Homo sapiens: one gene and its partners. The protein of the gene in region 1 interacts with the protein of each later gene in a biochemical or structural test. Each region holds a gene or a part of one and is shown on either strand. Other genes may lie near its edges.

Region 1 (7,148 bases):
ACACGAAATGGAATTTCTAATCCTCAGCCACAGTCGCCCTGTTTCAAGTGCTCACTGGCTACATGGAGCTGGTGGCTGCCTATTGGACAGTGCATGTACAGAATGCTTCCGTCACTGTAAACAGTTCTGTTGGTCAATGCTAGATCATCAGCCCCATTTTATAGAGGAGGAAACTGAGGCTCAGAGATAAAGCAGAAAAGGGAACGGGAATGGGCACTCAGGGTTGACTGGTCTTGTGAGCCTCTGATGGAGAGAGAGGGGGTGGGGAGAGGCTGTGTGTCTCTGCGTGCTGCACATCTGTGATGACAGGGGCATCTGTACATGCACGCACATGTGTGCAAGTGTACTGTGGGACTTCCCTGGGTCTCCTCTCAGCATCTCCTAAGCTGTTGTCTGTATCCACCATTTTCTATTTTAGTCTCTTTCTCCAGGTGTCTGTGTCTCCGTCTCTTGGAGTTTCTCTGTCCATCTTTTGGTGCCTCCAAATTCCTCTCTTTCTCCCTGGTTCTTTCTCTGCTCCATCTCTCTCTCTCTCTGCCTCAGCTTCAGTCTCTCCTAGGTCTCTGTCTTCTTCTGTCTCTGTTCCTCTCCCTGAGATTCCCTCTGTCTTATGTTGGCATCTCCGCACCTGCACTGATATTTTTCTCCGTGTGCCCCTCAGCTCTCAATTTTTAAATCCCTTCACCCCTGGATCACAGCCCACCCCCGGCAGCACCCATCTTCAGTCTCCTCACCCCGGCCTCCTCTCTGTGCCCCACCCGTGTCCCCAGCCTGTCAGTCCCCCTCGCATTCCCCCTTTCCAGGCCAAGGGCAAGGAATCTGGGCCAGATAGCTCCCCCTATCTCTCCAGCCCCCCTCCCCTCCCAGCCATAAAAATAGCAGGAGAAATTGGGACGGACGCCGAGGGGGTGAGGGCGGGGGCACGGCCCGAGGAGGAGAACCAGGTGTCCGAGCACTCACGTCCGTCTGGGGGCCCTTCCCAGCGCCTGGACACTCGAAGGTCACAAATTCGTGGCATCGTCGATGAACCACAAAGCTGCAGACTATAGATGAAAATCATAGAGACACAGACGGAGGCATGGATTAGTCCAGCGGGAGACCCCAGCAGACAGAAAATTGGAAAGAGAGAGCGGAACTCGGACACTGAGAAAACCAGAAAGAGAGGGATCTCAACACAGAGAGTCCAACAGAGAGAAAATCGGAGGCCAGAGAGAGAAGCAGGAGACAGAAACCCAAGAGATGGGCTCAGAGTCAGAAACAGAGACGCAGAGACTTACAGAGAGACACAGAGCACAGAGCTCAGGGAAGGGAGATGGAAAAAGAGAGAAAGAAAATAGGATCCCATTGACAAACAGACACAGGCCCACGGACGGAGATCAGAAAGCCAGGAGAGAGGCAGACAGATTCAAAGAGCGAAAACCGAAATATCTTCAGACGCAGCCCAGGAAGCAGCAACTTGGGCAGAAGTGAGTCTGGGGGCGCTGCTGCCGGCCCGCCCCCCACCCTGACTCACTCTGTTCTCAGCAGTAGCAGCTGGTGCTCAAGGACTCGCCCCCCTCTCCCGCCCCCCAGAACTGCCGGCCCCGCCCGGCCCCCACTCGCCCATTGGTGACCCCACCCGGCCTGCCCCTGCCTAGGACGGCTGGTGTTGTCATGGCGACGGCAGCCTGGGGTGGGGGGGGGCTCTGACTTTGCATCTCCAGCCCCCTCCCCCTTCCCCCCTTCAGCTCCCCTTTTCCAAATCTCCATGTTCCCATGGCAACAGATTCTCCAAATATCTGTCCCCACCTGGAGCCGGCCGAGGGAGGGGCCCCCAGCACCACCTCCGCGGTGGCCCCACCATCAAAGCTCCCTCCCCACCACAGGCTGTGTCTCTGCCACACCCCCCGCCCCGGGCTCCCCCGCGCCTCTCTGGGGACCAGAGAACACGTGTGTCAAGCAGCCTCAGCTGTGGGGCCCCAGCCTCCACCCTCCTGAGGGTCCCAGGAGCCCCGGTCCCCAGCTCTTACCTTGACATTGCAGGCCCTGCTTTCCGATACCCCTGGAAGAGTCAGGGATCCTAGGTCAGTGCAGAAAGGGGTACCTGGACCCCCAACCTCTGCGAGCCACAGGGGGCCTGCGCTCTCTGACCCTCCTCCCGCAGGGCCCAGGTGTCCAAGCCCCGGCCACCTCCTCTTTCTAGAACCCAGAAATTTTGGCCCCCAGCCCTTCTTCCCTTAGACTGGAGTTCAGCCCCCAGTTTCTTCCTCCTTCAGACCCAGGAATCCAGGCTCCCAGCCCCCCAGGCCCTTCCTCCCTCAGACCCAAGACTCCAGGACCTCTGTCCTCCAGCCTCCTCCTCCCTCGGACCCAGCACTCCAGGAACCAGCCTCCTCCTCACTGAAACCCAGGAGTCGAAGCTCCCAGCGTTCCCTGGCCATCCTAGAACCTGGGAGTCGGGACTACAGCCCCCTCCTTCTTCCTTCCACAGGGGTCGGCGTGATAGGAGTCTGCACCCCTAGTCCCCTCGTCCCCCAGTCCCCCAGCCCCCTTCCCTCACCAGATGAAGTCGGTGCAGTGGCTGCAGAAGGTGGGCTGCTTGAAGAAGCGAGCGGTGAACTTGTGGCTCTTGACTTCGTGGACCACCTTCTGCCTCAGGGCCCCCTTTCTGCAAAACAGGGGCCGGGGTCCCCCCTCTGAATCGCCTACGCCGGGGCCCAGACCAGCCATGGCCCCAGAAACGTAGCAGGGACCAGGATCCTGCCTTTCTTGGGGGAAACAGGTGGAAGGGAGAGGAGCTGGAGACTCGAAGGATCAAAGGAGCCACAGGGAAATTCCGAGGTGGGCAGGAGAGGGGCAAGGCACCTCCAGGTGCGGAGCGCGCCAGGCAGGGAGCGGCACCCCGGGCGCGCCGGCTCCGCCAGGGGGAGCGGGCGAGTGGGGAGGAAGAGCCAAAGGCAGGGGCGCCGGCAGCCGGAGGCACGGGCGGCGGCGGTGGGAGCTCCAGCTCCGGCACCTGCTGAAATGTGGGAGCCCCGGGTTGGGGGAGGCGTTGCCAGGACGACCGAGAGGGCGGGGTTTCGGCTTAAAGGCGCTCCCCTCCCGGAGACACGGGACAAATGTCCTCCCTCCCCGCCCCCCACACGTGCACACACCCACTCCGGGGGCTGGCTGGAGGGAGGGGCATCCTCTGAGCCTGGCTCCCCCCCACCACCCTGCAATCTGTCATCCTGCCCCGCGTTCCTCCCCCACTAGGGTGCCTCGTGTGTCCTGTGGGCGCCCTGGGGTCCCTGTGTCTGACCCTGCCCCTCTCCTTCCTTCAACAAACTTTATGCTCCACGCTAGGGGTCCAGCAGTGGACAGGCAGGGCGCTAAGGTTCTCACTTTCTCCGATGCCGGCTGAGTCTTTATTTCCTCCCCTGGCCTCTCCATTATTTGTGTAGCTCTCTGCCTGCGTGTGTCTTTCTTGTGACCTCTGTCCCTCTCCCTCTATTCCTGGAGCGAGCTTTCTCGATGTGTCTCTGTTTCTGCCTCTCAGTGGATCTGTTTTCTTTTCCCTGTCTCCGAGAAATGCTGTTTCTATTTCTTTCTATTTCTCTATTTCCTCTGCTGTGTGTCTCCATCTGTATCTGTCGCCATCTCTGGGTCTTGGTGTCGTGGTTCTTCTCGGGGTCTTGGTCTGCCTCACTGTGAATCAGTCTCCCTCTGTCTCTCCCTCTACGTCTGATAAATTCTTCCGCCTCTGTCTCCCTGAGTTTGTTTCTTTCCCTGTCTTTGTCTCTCTGGCTCTGTGAATCTCTATTCTCTCTCAGGCTGTGACTCTGTCTCCCCCTCCCTCTGCAACTTGATCTCTTTGGGAGTCCGTCTCTGTCTTCCTCTCTGGGAGTCACTCTCTAAATGCTTGCCCCTGTCTCTCCCTCTCTCTCCTCACCTCCACCCGTCTTTATAAATGCCTTTGTCTCTGTCTCTCTCCCTTCCTCCGGTTCTGCAACTCCGTCTCTGTTTTTGTTTGTCTCTTCCTATATCTCTCTGGTTCCATCTGTTTCTCTGTACTTGTCCCTCTCTGGCTCTGTTGATCTCTCTCTCTCTCTCTGATGCTAGGGGGGTCTCTCTCCTGTCTATGACTCAGTCTCTCTCTCCCTCTTCTCTTCTCTGTCTCTGTCCCTTTCTCTCTGACCCAATCTCTCTCCCTCTTCTCTTCTCTGTCTCTGTCTCTGTCCCTTTCTCTCTGACCCAATCTCTATTTGTCTCTCTGGCTCTATGAATCTCTTTCTGTTTCTGGGGATCTCCCCGTCCCTCTGTGTCTGTGATTCACTCTCCCTGTGTCTCTGGCTCTCTGAATCTATTCATCTCTCTGACTCTCTGAATCTGTGTCTCTGGCTCTATGAATGTCTATGTCTCTCTGACTCTGAATCTGTGTCTCCGGCTCTATGAATGTCTCTCTATGTCTCTCTGACTCCCTGAATCTGTGTCTCTGGCTCTATAAATCTATGTCTCTCTGACTCTGAATCTCTCTGTGTCTCCGGCTCTATGAATGTCTCTCTATGTCTCTCTGACTCTGAATCTCTCTGTGTCTCTGGCTCTATGAATCTCTATGTTTCTCTGACTCTGAATCTCTCTGTGTCTCTGGCTCTATGAATGTCTTTCTATGTCTCTCTGACTCTCTGAATCTCTGTGTCTCTGGCTCTATGAATCTCTATGTCTCTATGAATCTCTGTGTCTCTGGCTCTATGAATCTCTTTCTATGTCTCTCTGACTCTCCGAATCCCTCTGTGTCTCTGGCTCTATGAATCTCTCTGTTTGTCTCTTTGGCTCTGTGAATCTCTGTGATTCAGGCTCTCTGAATCTCTCTATATGTCTATGAATCTCTCTGTGTCTCTGGCTCTATGAATGTCTCTCTATGTCTCTCTGACTCTCTGAATCTCTGTGTCTCTGGCTCTATGAATCTTTCTATGTCTCTCTGACTCTCCGAATCTGTGTCTCTGGCTCTATGAATCTCTCTGTTTGTCTCGTTGGCTCTGTGAATCTCTGTGATTCAGGCTCTCTGAATCTCTCTATATGTCTCTATGAATCTCTCTGTGTCTCTGGCTCTCTGAATCTCTGTCTCTGGCTCTAGGAATCTCTGTCGAGGGTCTCTAGATAGAGACTTCCCTCTCTGTGTCTCTGTGATTCAGTCTCTCTCCCTCTTCCCTTTTCTGTGTCTCTCTCTCTGTCCCCTTCTCTGACCCACTCCATGTGTCTATCTGGCCCTGTGAGTCTCTCTCCATCTCTGAGGTCTCTCCCTCTCTCCCTGTGTCTCTGTGATTCAGTCTCTCTCCCTCCTGTCTTTTCTATGTCTCTGTCCTCTGTCCTCTTCTCTGACCCACTCTACGTGTCTCTCTGGCCCTGTGAATCTCTCTGTCTTTGAGGTCTCTCCCTCCCTCTAAGTGTCTCTGTGATTCAATCCCTGTCTCCCTCTCTCTAGATCTCGCTGGCTTCGGCATCCTCTCTGTGCGCCCCCTCTCAGGAAAGGGGTCTCTCCAAGGGCCGGCGCGGTCAGTCTCTTCCGGCCTCCACACCTCTTGGTCGCTCTACCCGCGTCCCCGCCTCTCTCTGGTCGGGCTCTGCGCCTCCCCGGCTCGGGAGCGCTTCCCAGTCCCCGCTCCCGGGAGACCCTCTCTGTTGCCAGGGGCAACCACGGCCCGCCCCGGGCTGCGGGCGCAGTGCATTCTGGGACTGGTAGTCCGAGCCTGCGGACCAGCCACTCTCGGGACACGACCGAGAACTCCGCCTCCCGGCGTGCCCCGCGAGGCTGGGCGGGACGCTGCGGCGGCGCCTGGGAGGGACTCTGGACGCCCAGCTTACCTTCTCTGGGACTTTTCAGGGGTTCGGGGCGGGTTTCCTGGGATTCCCAAAGCCGAAGGGAAGGTGGGGGAATCCGAGTCCTCTTGTAACCACTCTCCCTAAATGTGGAGTCCACTGGCCTTCCAGCCACCTCCAGGTGACCTAGGGCGAAGGATAGGCGGCGGGGATGGCCCCGAAACCGACCTAGGAATCCCACCACGTTCTAGTCCAGTGTCCTTGAGTTCTTTCCCGAGTTAACCAACGTATCACCCCAGAGTTCTATAGCTGTTCTTTCGGATGCCTTCCAGAAGGGATTCAGGCATGGGATGGGAGAGAAGGGTGGGCGAGGCGTCCTTTAAGAAGACAGCGATGGAGTGGGTTGGAGCTCAAGAGTGGACGCTGCAGAAATGAAAAGGAGGCCTTTCCTCATCCAACGACAGTGTGTGCCCCAGCTGGCCTTTCCTTCTCCCCTTCCAGGGGAACCCTTCCCTCCCTTGCGGTATCTCTCCCCAATTGCTTTTGCGGATGTAGATGCAGATAGCGGGTTCTGTGATCATCGAATTTTCTTTAAAACTTTTTTTTAAATAGAGACGAGGTCTTGCTGTGTTGCCCAGGCTGGTCTTGAACTCCTGGGCTTAAGCGATCCTCCCGCCTTGTCCTCCCAGTGTTGGGACTACAGGCGTGAGCCTCCGCGCCGGCTGATCATGGAATATATATATATATATATATATATATATATATATATATATATTTTTTTTTTTTTTTTTTTTTTTTTTTTTTCAGACGGAGTCCCGCTCTGTCTCCCAGGCTGGAGTGCAGTGTGGCGCGATCTCGGCTCACTACAACCTCCGCCTCCCAGGTTCAAGCGATTCTCCTGCCTCAGCCTCATGAGTAGCTGGAACTACAGGTGCCCTCCACCACGCCCGGCTAATTTTTGTATTTTTAGTAAAGACGGGGTTTCACCATGTTGGCCAGGATGGTCTCGATCTCCTAACCTCGTGATCCACCCGCCTCAGCCTCCCAAAGTGCTGGGATTACAGACGTGAGCCACCCGCCGGGCCTGATCTGGGAATTTTGTAGGGCTTATATTTATTTGTGTATTTGTGATTCTCCTGAGGTCCGGGAAATATGTAGGCGGAGGATTACCTAGGTGCCCAGGCAAGAGACTGAAGGCACAAACTGTTTCAGTATAATAAACAAAATAGTTAGAATAAGAATAGTCATAATACAAATTAGATGTAGAGATGATCATGGACAATTATCAATCATTATTATAAACATTATTAATCATTAGCTTTTAATATTACTCTTTGCTGCATTACTAATGTAAGCTAGGAATAACCGGC
Region 2 (5,949 bases), on another chromosome or scaffold:
GGCTGAAATGACATGCAGCGGAGCTGTAGACACACCTGAGCCAGGTACACGGACCATGGACAGGAGACCCCGCTTGGTCCTCCCGGCCACCCTTCCGGAAGACACCCTCGTTTGCACCACCGCCACACAGGGACACACACGAGCAATTTCCTTTTGTCTTATGACAGCTCCTAAAAGGGACCCCACAGATATCTTCAAGAAAGTTTCGCTTACTTGATCCCACAAAACGGTGTCCTGAGCGCCTTCCAGAATGCAGGTCATTCCTCCAGGCATGGGTGAGGACCTGGGGGCTGTGCCTACCAGCGTGACCTGTTACTTCAGCTTTTGTTCCTAAGACTTCCAGTGTTCTTTCCTTGTCTTTTAAAAAAAAATCTTCAAATTTTCTCAAACTCTAGACTTTAAAGGAAACATGTTATCTTCAGTATCAAAGACAGACAGAATTTTCAAATCTAAAACAGCCCAAAGAAACTGTAAAGCTAACAAGCACACAGAAAACACATCAAAGAAGACGAAGCGACACATTCTGTGACATAAGAAAAATAATCAGTTTAATAATTACAACAGTGTAGCATCAACATTGTAGTAGTCAACACTAGGACATTGTCTGTGACATTTAAATTAGGAGTTTCTCCACACTTGTCAACAGGCGCCCTGGGTGTCCCAGAGAAGTGAAGAAATGATTGGCATTAAGGAGTCCACACAACCAGGGCAGGCATTCAAGGTCCCAGACGCCCAGCGCATGTGGACAAGCACAGACGCCACTGAGTGTGAAGGAACGAGCTTCTGATGCTACATTCCAACATCGCTGAAAACTGAAAGTGCTTCACATCTACAGGATAAGAAATGGCTTCATCTCCTCATCCATACAAGGTGAGAGCAAAGGAGTAACCCTCGGGCAAATCGTGGCCCCTTTAAACGTTTATATCAAGTTCCCACCCCCTTGGGAGGTCACACGGTGAAACAGACACAGTTATATACAACAGGGCAGGTTTTTAAAAAGAGTTGCTCTCAGACGCATTTTTCCTGCTCCCTAAAAAGCCGAGGAAGATACTGGATCCACAGAAAGAAAAGGCAATGCCGTAACATGAGGCCCTCATGGCCGCACCGTCCAGGGGAAGGGCTGTTAAAAACACAAGTATTCTTGTGAAATACTTCGATCTGAGCATTAAGGCAGGTCTGCAGGAGATCCGTCCTGGGGACTCGGACAGCAACGCTACCGGCTCCGAGAGGACAGTTAATGTCGCCTCCCGGCAGAGGGGCGGAGAGATCAGACAAGAGTTGTTCCTGAGTTAAAACCTGCTACAACAGCAAACTCCAATAAACTCAAGTTGAATGGTTTCCCACTGCAATGTCTTACGCATCACCAAAAAATAACTTGTAAAACTCAAGCTTACCAAAAAAGAAAGTGTTGATCTTTGCTTGTGCCCGCATGAGTGAATGATCTGCTAAGTTGAGGAAGCTGGCAATTCTAGTGAAAAGTCCAGGTGAGGCCAGGTTCTGCAGCATGGGGCAGGTCCACGCTGAGCCCAGGCAGACAACGTGACCAGTCACGGAAGGAAGCCAAAGGGGCTTGCTGGGCACCAGAGACTGTAATTAGCAAGGGCAAGGAAGAACCGTAAACAGCAACACAACACTCTCCCAAGGTGCCCAGCTCAAAGGCATCAGTACACAAAGGATTCAGGTGCAGTTAAAGGGCAATTTGGCCAATAGACAGAAAATCAGAGAGTCAAATCTGATGCGCAATGAGTTGTTCTGAGACCAGTAATCCACGGTGCTGCAATTTGGGTTTTTAAAGATAGAACACTTGTTCTACGGAAAAGTGTATCTCACTTTAAAACCAACCTTTTCACAGGAAAGGAAACCAAAAGCAAAGTCCCTGTGGTCACCCTTATTTATTGCTGAAGCAGAACGAAAACCTGCTCCACGGGCCGGGCTTCCTGCCCAGGACCGCACAGGCTTTCCAGAGCCAGCCTGGGCCCAGCGAGCCGCGGTGAGGACAGGCTTCGTCTCCTCTGCACTGGAACACAGTGGGGGAAACGTTCCCTGCTTATGCCTATGTTACTTAGTGGAACCTAAGGTGTATATTGCTTTATTCTTGCTGAAGGAGGGGATTTTACTTTCGGTGAGCACTGAAGCCTGCTGGCTACGGCCAATGGTGGAGGAGACCTCGGGATGAGGCTGGCCTGATGACAAAACTCCACCCATCAGTATCAGCCTGCAGCATGGCCTCCATCTGTTTTCATCAGCTGCAGTGACTTATAATAAATAATACATTCTATTTACAGGTTCTAGTAAGATCTCTCTTTGAGGGAAGACAAAACAGTGTATTTTGTTGTTACTGAACTAGCCTATACAGAACCGTCTGTGTCCTCCCAAAACGCAGCAAACTCATCTGAGAATCACAGTACTCAGACAGCGGACAAGAGCAAACACCTCTAGGTGGATGCGGCAGTGCCGTATGGGCCTTCCTTGAGGTCAAGACTGAGTCTGTCAGCCAGCAAGTTGCCCTCAGAAACCCGCAGGTCTGGGACTGTAATGCTGCTTTAAGAGAAGACTTCTGAATGGGACTGAAGTGTATCTCTGCAGGTATAAATAAGGTTATTTAGAAATACCGACATGGGGGGTGCTGCCACAGCACGGTGGAGGCCCTGGTGCTGCGGAACGAACCAGGCATCCACCAGGCTTCTGCTTCCGGTGGATGCGGGCATGGGACTTCTTATTCACGTAGCTGGAAAGGACATTCTAGCATGGGGATTAGCCCGGACAGAACCACCACAGGTATGCATTCAAAATGGGATATTTACAAGAAACATGTATATATAATATTTATATATTCAATTCAAAGTCTGGAAAAACAAGACTTTTAGTCAGTCACTGAACTTATTGCAGAATGAGGTAACTGAGATGTTCACAGAGTGGATTGATGTAGCTCAGGTCCTCAGAGTCAATCCCTCCTGTCTGGATTCATCAGTCATGGTTTGATCGTCTCCATTCGCAGAATAAGCTCCAGCTTTTCTATATACAGAGAGCAAGGTGGCGCCCCACCCAGCCCTGCCCTGTGGTCCTGAGTGCACCCCGACTTGGGTCAGGGGTGCCCAGCTTCACCTCAGAACTGGTCTTCAACAGAAAGAACTGAGGACATCCCTTATAGATTGGTCTCATCCCAGGCAGGATCATTCATGTTCTTCAGGACTTTCCTCACCAGCTTCTCCAGGTCTTTGCGGGCTCTCTGTTCTTCCTCTAGAGATTTCTTCATCTTTTTGTTGTCCTGTAAATTAAGCAGACCACAGGGTGTTCACTATCTTTGGCATCGCGTAGGGCTTCCTTTCCCCAAATGTGTATCCTTGAGGAGCTAAGGCCTCGATTCATGAAATCCCACGTGAGCTGCCTATGGGCTCTGAGGTCGTGGGGATCCACGAAGGTCAAACACCTGGACAGGGTGGCAGCGGTGCTCCTGACTGTGCTGCTGTTCCCGGGATGGAAATGGTCCTAATGGCTCTTATTAAGTCCATGAATGAATCTCTATAGAACATACCGTAAGAAAATAGCTGGAAACTGCGGACGAGACAGCTCCTATCCAGCCTTTTTGTCCATTTATAACCACCTTCCAGAGTTACAGAAAGGACTGGAAGTAACAGCCACTGACAGGTGCAGGAGCAAGTGGGCGAGCACCTGCTCTGTGCAGCTGAACCCAGGCATGTCTCGGACGTAGGAGGCATGCACAAACAGATGCCTGCTGCCGGTAGGGGCAAAGCGTGAACATGGAAGCCTGCCAGCCAGGCAAAGGTGTACCTGGAAGACCTGCGGACACTGCTTAGAATGACAGCACATGTCCAGTTCCACACAGCAACCTGCTCTCAGCTCTCTATCCCAGACCACAACTCTTCTCAGGCTGTTCCTCGGCCAAAAGAACACCCCAACCTTCCCTCACCTAGCTGGGCAGAGGACCAAAGCCGCTCGTACTCACATTCCGTGCAATGAACACCCCAACCTTCCCTCGCCTAGCTGGGCAGAGGACCAAAGCTGCTCATACTCACATTCCGTGCAATACCCAGAACACCCTTGGTTAGTCGCCACTTCTGGCTCGCTAACCTGGCTTCGGGAGCCAAGGACCATGCAGTGGCAGAGGCTAATCTCAGGGGCGCCTCGCAGGATTTGTCACCAGACAGAACTTTCGATATTTTAAATTATTCTTCCAACAGAATTTGCGATGTTTTATGACATCAAAATCAGTATTGTTAAGAAAAAAAAAAGAGTTTAAACAAGTCACTTTAGAGACAACCAATTATTTTATCTGCTGGACTTCTCAAAGACATGACCTCCTTTTAGTTTTTTGCTTATGGACAATCAGCTTTTTATTTTTATTTGAGACGGAGTCTTGCTCTGTGGCTCAGACTGGAGTGCAGTGGCACAATCTCGGCTCACAGCAACCTCCGCCTCCTAGGTTCAAGCAATTCTCCTGCCTCAGCCTCCCAAGTAGCTGGGTTACAGGCACCTGCCGCTATGCCCAGCTAATTTTCGTATTTTCAGTAGAGATGGGTTTTTGCCATGTTGGTGAGGTTGGTCTTGAACTCCTGACCTCAGGTGATCTGTCCACCTCGGCCTTCTAAAGTGCTGGGATTATAGGTGTGAGCCACCGTACCCAGCCAGCTTATTTTTAATGTAATTTTCTTCTTTTCTCCCATTTGAAAAGAAAAAAAAGATTTAAAGATGGATTATGACGTACCTGTCTTAATTCTTGAACTTCATCCTTTAATGCATATACGGTATCCACAAGACTCCTGAAACAGGAAACAGAACACACACACATGAACAAGGTGAGGCATGGAGAGGACACACGAAAACTTACCAGGAGACACTACGATGCTGAGAGGAGGACACGGAGCTGCTCTGCCTTACCCATGTACTGTCTACATTCACAACTAAAAACTGCCAACCTCTGTGCATGGCAGGTTCAAGCCTAGTCAAGGGCAACTTCAGCCTATGAAGACATTTTAAAAGTGAAGCTCTGGCCAGGCACAGTGGCTCACACCTGTAATCCCAGCATTTTGGGAGGCCGAGGCGGGCAGATCACCTGAGGTCAGGAGTTTGAGACCAGCCTGGCCAACAGGGTGAAAACTCGTTTCTACTAAAAATACAAAAATTAGCCAGGCGTGGTGGCACAGGCCTGTAATCCCAGCTACTCGGGAGGCTGAGGCAGGAGAACCGCTTGAACCCGGAAGGTGGAGGTTGCAGTGAGCTGAGATCGCACCATTGCACTCCAGCCTGGGTGACAAGAGTGACACTCCGTCTCAAAAAAAAAAAAAGTGAAGCTTCTGAAGCCATACCCCCGCCCTCAGGGAGTTGTCTGGACTCTACTACCCCACCGCAGAGGTCAAACATCTGCTTTAGAATACCGGAAGACATCTTACTTTTCTTCTATCACTGTCTGACCATTACTTTTAGTTTCTTCCACTATAATTTTCTCTTCTTCTGGAAGCAAAACTTGTGGAGCAGATTCTTTGCGTGAACCTAGGATCATGAAAAAATAATAAATAAACCTCAGGCGAATACCATGGCAGAATGAAGAAAAACAACTTGACTATACCATGTCACTTAAATATTAAGTTCTAGCAATTATGCATTTAAAAACGTTCATCCAGGCAAGCTAGAGGAGGGCATCTTTTACCAGTTCTCTTCACCTCTGTCTACCGAGCCCAGGCCTCCTCATGACCAAAGCCAGAGAGGGAAGGAAACTGTAGCCCTTTTCAAATCGGAATTACGGATTGTTGAAACCCCAGCATTTTCAACAGGGAGGAAGTTAAAGGTTGTGACTGTACTGCTCTGGATATTCATCCCATTTTGAGCCATTATTCCAAGAGTTTCAGCAAAGACATATGAGACCAATCAGAACATATACAGTGAGTGTTTATACATCAAAGATCTGGCAATAAAAACATTTTACTCTAC
Region 3 (6,894 bases), on another chromosome or scaffold:
CACCCTCAAAGAACTTCGTTTCTTTCCTTCAGACAGTTTATCTTAGTTTGTAATAACATATAGTCAATATTTATTTTCCTAACAGCTGCCACCCCAAAGCATCTGTAAGCTCCAGGAGAGCAGGGACCTCACCTGGTTTTATATACCAGTTAGTTCCCAGTGACTGGCACATAGCCAGGCACTCTATAAACATTTTGAATGATGAATGATGAATGATTTTTTTACCTCTTACTTACTTATTGCCGTGTTATCTTAAGAATTATATGCAACTCCTCACCAGTCTCAAACTTGTAGTTAACTTCTTCCTCTTCATTATACCCCTACCCTATCACAAGGATCAGTCATTATTTTCTCACCCTCTCCTCCCCACTCTCTTCCACCAAAAAGTCTTAGAAGTGGCAGCTTCTAATCAGCCTGAACTTTCTGACATGGTTGGGATCCAGTTCAAGGTTATGCAATATGAAAAGATAAACAAAATAAAGGAAAAATGTGGAGACTGGAGTACCTATTAGGTGATTTTAAACAATGGACACAGCTCCTAAAGAACCTGCTAATTCAGTAAAAAAGAAAATTTTTAACTAATTTAATTTCAACCACTCTGTTTTATCATAGAGACAAAAACTGGTTGATTTGCTGATTTTTTTTTTTCACTTACTATGTTTTGGTCTAGCATAGAAGTCTTGGAACAGAGCTGACTGTGCTGTATTGGCAGGAAGTAACTCGCATGTGTGGTCTCTTAGAAATTATATGGAGACTGTTCCCAAATGACAGGGCTCTGTGCTTGAGGAGTCTTCTCTACTCAAGGGTCTTGGCCTGCTTCTTCCTTCCTACTTCCCCTCCAACTTCTCCTACATCTTCCCCTCCCCTTTTGTCCACCACAAAGCTTTGTCCCTCAGCCCCTTCATTGGACACCTGGGAGGCAGGTATAAAGCACCCGCTCTCCCAGGTTCCTACAGAGGAAAAATCCTAGGCATGCCAGTTAGGGAATCCTGGAGTGGAGATGGGAAAAGCAACAGCAAGGTGTGACTGATGAAGTTCTGTTTTAAGGAATAGGAACTACTGTGGTGTTAAGTTCTGGAAATCCAGAGCATTTCAGAAAACAGCCTGCATTATTTCTCTCAGTAACAGACTACCTAAACTGCACTTGGAAGATCCAGTTTAAGGGGAAAGATAAGTGTGTTTAGAACTTGACATGGACTCTTCCCCAATGTGCCTTTTCTTCAAATCTCTGGGATAATTGAAGCAAGTAAACGAAATGTCTTCTCGTTAGTAGGCTCCCTACCCTGAGGACCACCTTGTGAAAAATATTTGAGGACAAGAGAGGCGTTGCAAGGAGGAACACTGGAGATTAAGGGATGTGGGCAGTGGTGGTGACATCATTTTCTGGATAAAGAATCAAAAGACGGCGACAGAACACGTAGAGTGGGAAAGGCTATGGGTGTAGAAAGGAGACAGCAATAGACACACATGCTAGTGCACGCATTGCCTGTAGAAGATAAATGTTTGTATTATTTGACTTAAAAAAAGAAACATATGCATGTTATCTATTGAAAGCTATAATGTTAAAATAATGATAAGACTCCATCAGTCTGGTATGCCTTTTTTTTTTCTCCCCAGGAAATACACATGGAGGCTGGTGCTCAGGCCCCGGGAACTGACAATCTAATTTGATGCCACTGAAGCAAAGTTCCCAAGACAGCTGGTAGCTTGGACCAGGAATCCTGTGGGGGCACTGACGGCCCCTGGGGCCAGAGCTGACTCTGTGGCCCTCCCCTCCATATTCATACACTCTGTAAAAGCTACCTGTCCCCTTGTTAACACGTGGCAAGCGAGTCCTTTCTGACTATATCACAGGCAGAAACAAGGCAGAGGCACAAGAAACTACCAACAGCAGGCGTTTTGGTGCGCGCTCCCGTTCATTCGCGTGGGCGACCCGCTGCCCCTTCTAGGGGCACTGAACAATCCAGTTCTGAGCCGGGGAAAGCCTTGATCCTGTAATCTGGTCCCTACTTTCCCCCACGTTCACGCCCAATGCTCCCAGGCTGGAGCTGCTCCGGCGTGTGCCCCTCGTTCGGCCCGGAGCCCTTGGCCCCCAGACCCCGCCACGGCCCCTCCCCCACCAGGGGCGCTTTCCTCCCGCCCTCCTTGGGTTCCCCGGTCCTACCTGCGCCGCGGCCAGGGCTCCCTCGCACAGAGGCAGCTCCGGCCCCTCGGCCGTGGGTCTCCACGAGGATGAGCTCTGGTCTGATCTCAGGACTGCGCGCAGCCCCGCTCCCTATGCCAAGGTCACGGTCTTGGAGAGGCGCGTCTGGCTCGCTGCGCTCCCGGCGCCCGCCTTCGGGTCCGGCCACAGCAGCCCCCGCAGACCCTCTGGGCGGCCGCTGCGGCCCCGGCCCCGGCCCCGGAGCTCCGCCCCTCTCCTGCTCCCCGCCCGCTTGCCCCCTCGGGGTCCCCAACTGCCGAGCCCAGCTCCCCTCGTAGCCCACTCGCGGGCTGCCTTCTAACCCCTACCCCAGTTAGTCCCGGTTCCTTCACCGTCTCCTTAGCCCGCAGAGAGCTTAGCTGACTCTTCAGGGTCGCTGAGGGCGCGTCTTCGGTTCCCCGAGGGCCACAGGCCGGCTCGGGTCCCCAGCAGACGGCGAGCCCCGCGCTTAGGTCCTCTCCTGCCCTCTCCCGTGCCGAGCCAGGGGTTCCCGGCTCTCAAATCCTGTTCCCGCTGTCCTCTTCCCTGACCCCTACTCCTTGGCGATGGAAAGAAGCTTAGGGCGCTTACGACGCCACCAACGTTCTCTGTGCCGAGGGTGGCACAATTTTTTTTTTTCTGATATAAGGCCAGAGATTCACAGTAAAATAAATACAAATCGCGTGCCCAAACTCTTACTCATTCTGCAAGACTCAGGTCAAGCGTTGCCTGTGCCGCAAGACCTCGGTGCTGGCAAACAGCTCCCTCCTTCCACTCTCCTGCGCGAAAGGGCGTGCGGTCCTTCCTGGCTGCAGCCAGGTGCCTGTTGCACTTGGTCTACTCTACCCGACTCCACAGCGCGCTGCTTGGAGGCCCGGACCTGGCCTTGCTTATCCTTGTCCCTAGCCCCTGGCACGGTGCCTGCCACCCATCACAGCACTAGAATATTTTATGAATAAGTGGAAAATTAATTTCTTTTGTAGAAAACCAGTTTTTTTGTATGTGTTTGTTTGTTTTTGGCTTTTTACTCTCAAATAAAGCATACTCCTTTGGGTGGGCAATTTGCTAGGCTCTATAAAGAAACACCAAAAATATTATCCCCTTTAATGCAGTATTCCACCCTTGCGGAAATTTCCAGAACAAAATAATATTCGTGCGGAGATTTTTTTTTTAGCAGGATCATTTGTTACAGAAAATAATTTTAAAAACCACAAAAAGCAAACAGAGCCAAACTGTCAACAGTAGGAAATTTGTTGAATAAATTAGGGTGACTTAATGGGACATTATACAACCATTAAAATGATAAACATCAAGACAGAAGTGCTTCAAATTCTTTTTAGAATAAGGAGGGAGTATGTATTTATTTATAAAGCAAAAAAAAAATAGGAAAACATGAAGTAACATGATAAAATGTTTGCAAAATACTGTTAAGCAAAAAGCAGAAAATTGGGTCGTTTACCATGTTTAAGAACTTCAAATAAAAATGCAGATTTCTTCTCTGCAAAATGGCGATAACATCTACCTCAGGGGGTCCTTGGAGTGTTAAATGAAATAGTCAAGGAAAGTGCCCTGTATAGAATGGATACTCAACAAAGTTTCCATTTCTTTTCTTCAATGGAACACAGACTCAAATCCAGCATGTCAAACACATCCTCATTATGGCCAAGTTCTGCCCATTTGGCTTCCTTTCCCTCAAATACAGGGTAGGAGAAGGAGCTGAGCAAATGCTAAAGCACCAGTGAAGGGGGCAAAATCTGGTTAATAGGAATAAATGTGAAGTCCTCCCTCAGGCCGAAACACCCAGCAATGTAAGTAATGGAGGATGTGGCTCAGTAGTGGTGCCTATCAAAATACCTTAGATTTTATTTTAGTTGGCTACAAGCACAGCTTTGTGAACACCCAAAGGCTGAACGAGTTCAGTTCAAAACCCGAATGAGGCTGCAATCTTAGGCTGAACTGATGCTCTTCACTGGTCGGATTACACCTGGGCATAATGTCCAAATTTGGGCACTATCTTTAAGAAAGTATTACTCTGAAGATCTATTATTGCTTCCATTTTAAAGACGAAGAAACTGATGCATACAGTTTCAGGTATTTAGGGTTGGGTGGCTAGGAGTTGGCAGAGCCAAGAGCTGAACCTGATCAGCTTGACTTACAGTCCTGGTGCTTGATCACTTTACCAGTGTGTCCCAGTGTGTACATCTTCCAGTAGAGATTGGAAGCATGGTATTGGGTGGTACACAGACAATACAATTAGATAACAGTGGATCACAAGGTGAAAAAAGATATGCCCTTTTTACTTCTTTTGTTCCTATGGATTATGTCAAGGAAGGAGTATCATTTTTGTAGTATTTGTCTTTGCACCCCTCTGTAACACTTGCTAATCTCCTGTTTTAACAAAGACAGAGGTTGCCTCTCACTCAGAACCTTTGCTAGGCAACAGCTCCTAAGTAGAATTTAATATCATTGTTTTCTCTTCCATCTGTTATTATTCCTTATGCAGTTAAGTTCCAATTGACATAGTTTTCCACTGACAAAGTGATGTGGTTTCCATTTAAGGTAAATTTTCTTATATGAGAAAAATGAGCAACTTGAAAGAAAGATCTAAAAGAACTAATAGGACCAGTGATGTTTAAATTTTGGAAATACAAGCCCATACTCTATTATGACCAGTGGATAGAAGGAATGACAGAAAGGTTTCAGTCCACAATGAATCAGGGCTGCCTGGGAAGATGCTGAAGGACAGCCTTGGGAGCTCAAACGCTGTGGCTAGAAGCTTTAAAGTTCCTGCCAACCAGGAGAATCTGGGATTCTTGACAGCAGGGCTTCTCAGGTATCTAACCTCTAGAAACACAGATTTTGGAGCAAGTTACATTCACTCCTTTTGGACAGATCCAAAAAAAGGGTTCCAAGTAAGCTCAGAACAATAGCAGCACCTCTGTGACCATGGTATAATTAACAGAGCACTAGCAGATTCTCTCTAAGGTAACTTTTGAAAGAGACAACATTTGGGAGGTTTACACTTCAATCATTTACTCCCTTACACCTTCTTTTGGTATACCCTCTATTCCTAACATCCCCGAGGGCCAAGATGGTGGGGCTGTTCCTCCTTCCTTTCATGTTCCAGCATTTCCCATCCCCAAATTCCATATCGTGTGGCCTCTGTTTCCCCTAAGGCAGCTCCCCTTGCTATTTTTTTAACCCTTTGGACTAGTATTAAAATGGATGTGTGGGGAAAAAAGGGTTTATAGGGTCCCCAGCAGTTAAAAAGTATCTTTGGTATAGGAAATTTATTTTGAAACCATAAAGTCTGAAAATCCATAATGTACAAAACCATAATCTGATTGCCTTATGGTTCAAGAATATTTGGTGAGTAGACATCACCTGGGCCCCTGACTGCTAAGAACAGAAAGCCACTTGGGAACATATAGGGCAGATAAGCTGTAGGGAAAAGACCATTCAGACAGTCCAGTGAAAGGACTAAATGCTTCCACTGGAGGAGCTACATCAGGGGAAGCTTGTTCAATTGGATTAGGAAATTCTTTACTGAGACACCTCTGATGCCTCTCTTTTCCTCACTTACTATCTCCAACCCATCTACAAGTCCTGATGGATTGACTTTCAAAATACATCCAGACTCAACCTCTTTTTCCTACCTCCACCACTACCAGCCCTATCCAAGCTGGCATCATCTTTCTCTTAGAAAACCTCCTATCTGGTTTTCCTGCACTGACCTTGCCTTCCTACAGGCTGTTCTTCCCAAAGCAACTGCAATGACACATTTAAAAATAAAATTGGATTCGGTCATTTCCCTGCTCAAAACCATGTCTGTAATGGATTCCTGTCTCAGAGTGAAATTCAGTAAATTTCATGGCCCATTAAGGCCATCATCATGTGGGTCCTGGCTGTGTCTCTGATCTCTCTACCAGCTTCCTTGTCTTCACACATACTGGTTTCCTTGCTGGTCTTTGGATGTGCCCAGCATACCCTGTGTTGGACCTTTGCATTTCCTTCTCTCAGTCTGGAGCTCTCTTCTCCCTCTTTTTTTTTTTTTTTTTGGAGACTGAGTCTTGTTCTGTCACCCAGGCTGGAGTGCAGTGACACAATCTCGGCTAACTGCAACCTCTGACTCCCAGGTTCAAGCGATTCTCCTGCCTCAGCCTCCTGAGTAGCTGGGATTACAGGTGCATGCCACTATGCCTGGTTAATTTTTGTATTTTTAGTAGAGATGGGGTTTCACCATGTTGGTCAGGCTTGTCTCGAACTCCTAACCTTGTGATCCCTCCCTTCTTTTGCTCTCTATTCAGAGAGGTATTCCTTTGGCTTTCCTATCTCATAAATGACATAGCCCCTCTTTCATCTTACTCCATCACTGTTTCCTTACCCTGCGTTTTTGGGGTGTTGTAAACTTTACTGATGGCTTGAGAACAATAAAATTGGTGGTGGAGATGGAGTCACAGAGTGGTTAGAGCAAATTGTAGCATCGAAAACAATTTTATTTAATTTTTAAATTTTGTTTTGTTATTTTTTTTTAGATGGAGTCTCACTCTGTGGCCCAGGCTGGAGTGCAGTGGCACAATCTTGGCTCACTGCAACCTCCACCTCCTGGGTTCAAGCTATTATCCTGCCTCAGCCTCCTGAGTAACTGGGATTACAGGCACGCACCACCATGCCCGGCTATTTTTTTGTATTTCTTTTTTTGAGATGGAGTC

Evidence for each region. Proteins that work in one complex are often made in the same cells at the same time.
Region 2: of the proteins of PRKCG (region 1) and ARHGEF7, one has a biochemical effect on the other in vitro, tested with the Homo sapiens proteins (one study listed by BioGRID).
Region 3: of the proteins of PRKCG (region 1) and CASR, one has a biochemical effect on the other in vitro, tested with the Homo sapiens proteins (one study listed by BioGRID).

What each region holds. Positions count from the first base shown.
Region 1 is NC_000019.10:53,878,056-53,885,203, reverse strand, and holds the start of PRKCG (protein kinase C gamma type), read right to left. Parts: upstream 3,008-7,148; 5' UTR 2,710-3,007; coding exon 2,540-2,709; intron 2,042-2,539; coding exon 2,010-2,041; intron 1,044-2,009; coding exon 961-1,043; intron 1-960. UniProt on the Homo sapiens protein: Calcium-activated, phospholipid- and diacylglycerol (DAG)-dependent serine/threonine-protein kinase that plays diverse roles in neuronal cells and eye tissues, such as regulation of the neuronal receptors GRIA4/GLUR4 and GRIN1/NMDAR1, modulation of receptors and neuronal functions related to sensitivity to opiates, pain and alcohol, mediation of synaptic function and cell survival after ischemia, and inhibition of gap junction activity after oxidative stress.
Region 2 is NC_000013.11:111,300,310-111,306,258, reverse strand, and holds the end of ARHGEF7 (rho guanine nucleotide exchange factor 7), read right to left. Parts: intron 5,512-5,949; coding exon 5,412-5,511; intron 4,782-5,411; coding exon 4,727-4,781; intron 3,269-4,726; coding exon 3,146-3,268; 3' UTR 527-3,145; downstream 1-526. UniProt on the Homo sapiens protein: Acts as a RAC1 guanine nucleotide exchange factor (GEF) and can induce membrane ruffling. Functions in cell migration, attachment and cell spreading. Promotes targeting of RAC1 to focal adhesions. May function as a positive regulator of apoptosis.
Region 3 is NC_000003.12:122,179,800-122,186,693, reverse strand, and holds the start of CASR (extracellular calcium-sensing receptor isoform 2 precursor), read right to left. Parts: upstream 3,027-6,894; 5' UTR 2,882-3,026; intron 2,368-2,881; exon of another isoform or gene 2,165-2,367; intron 1-2,164. UniProt on the Homo sapiens protein: G-protein-coupled receptor that senses changes in the extracellular concentration of calcium ions and plays a key role in maintaining calcium homeostasis.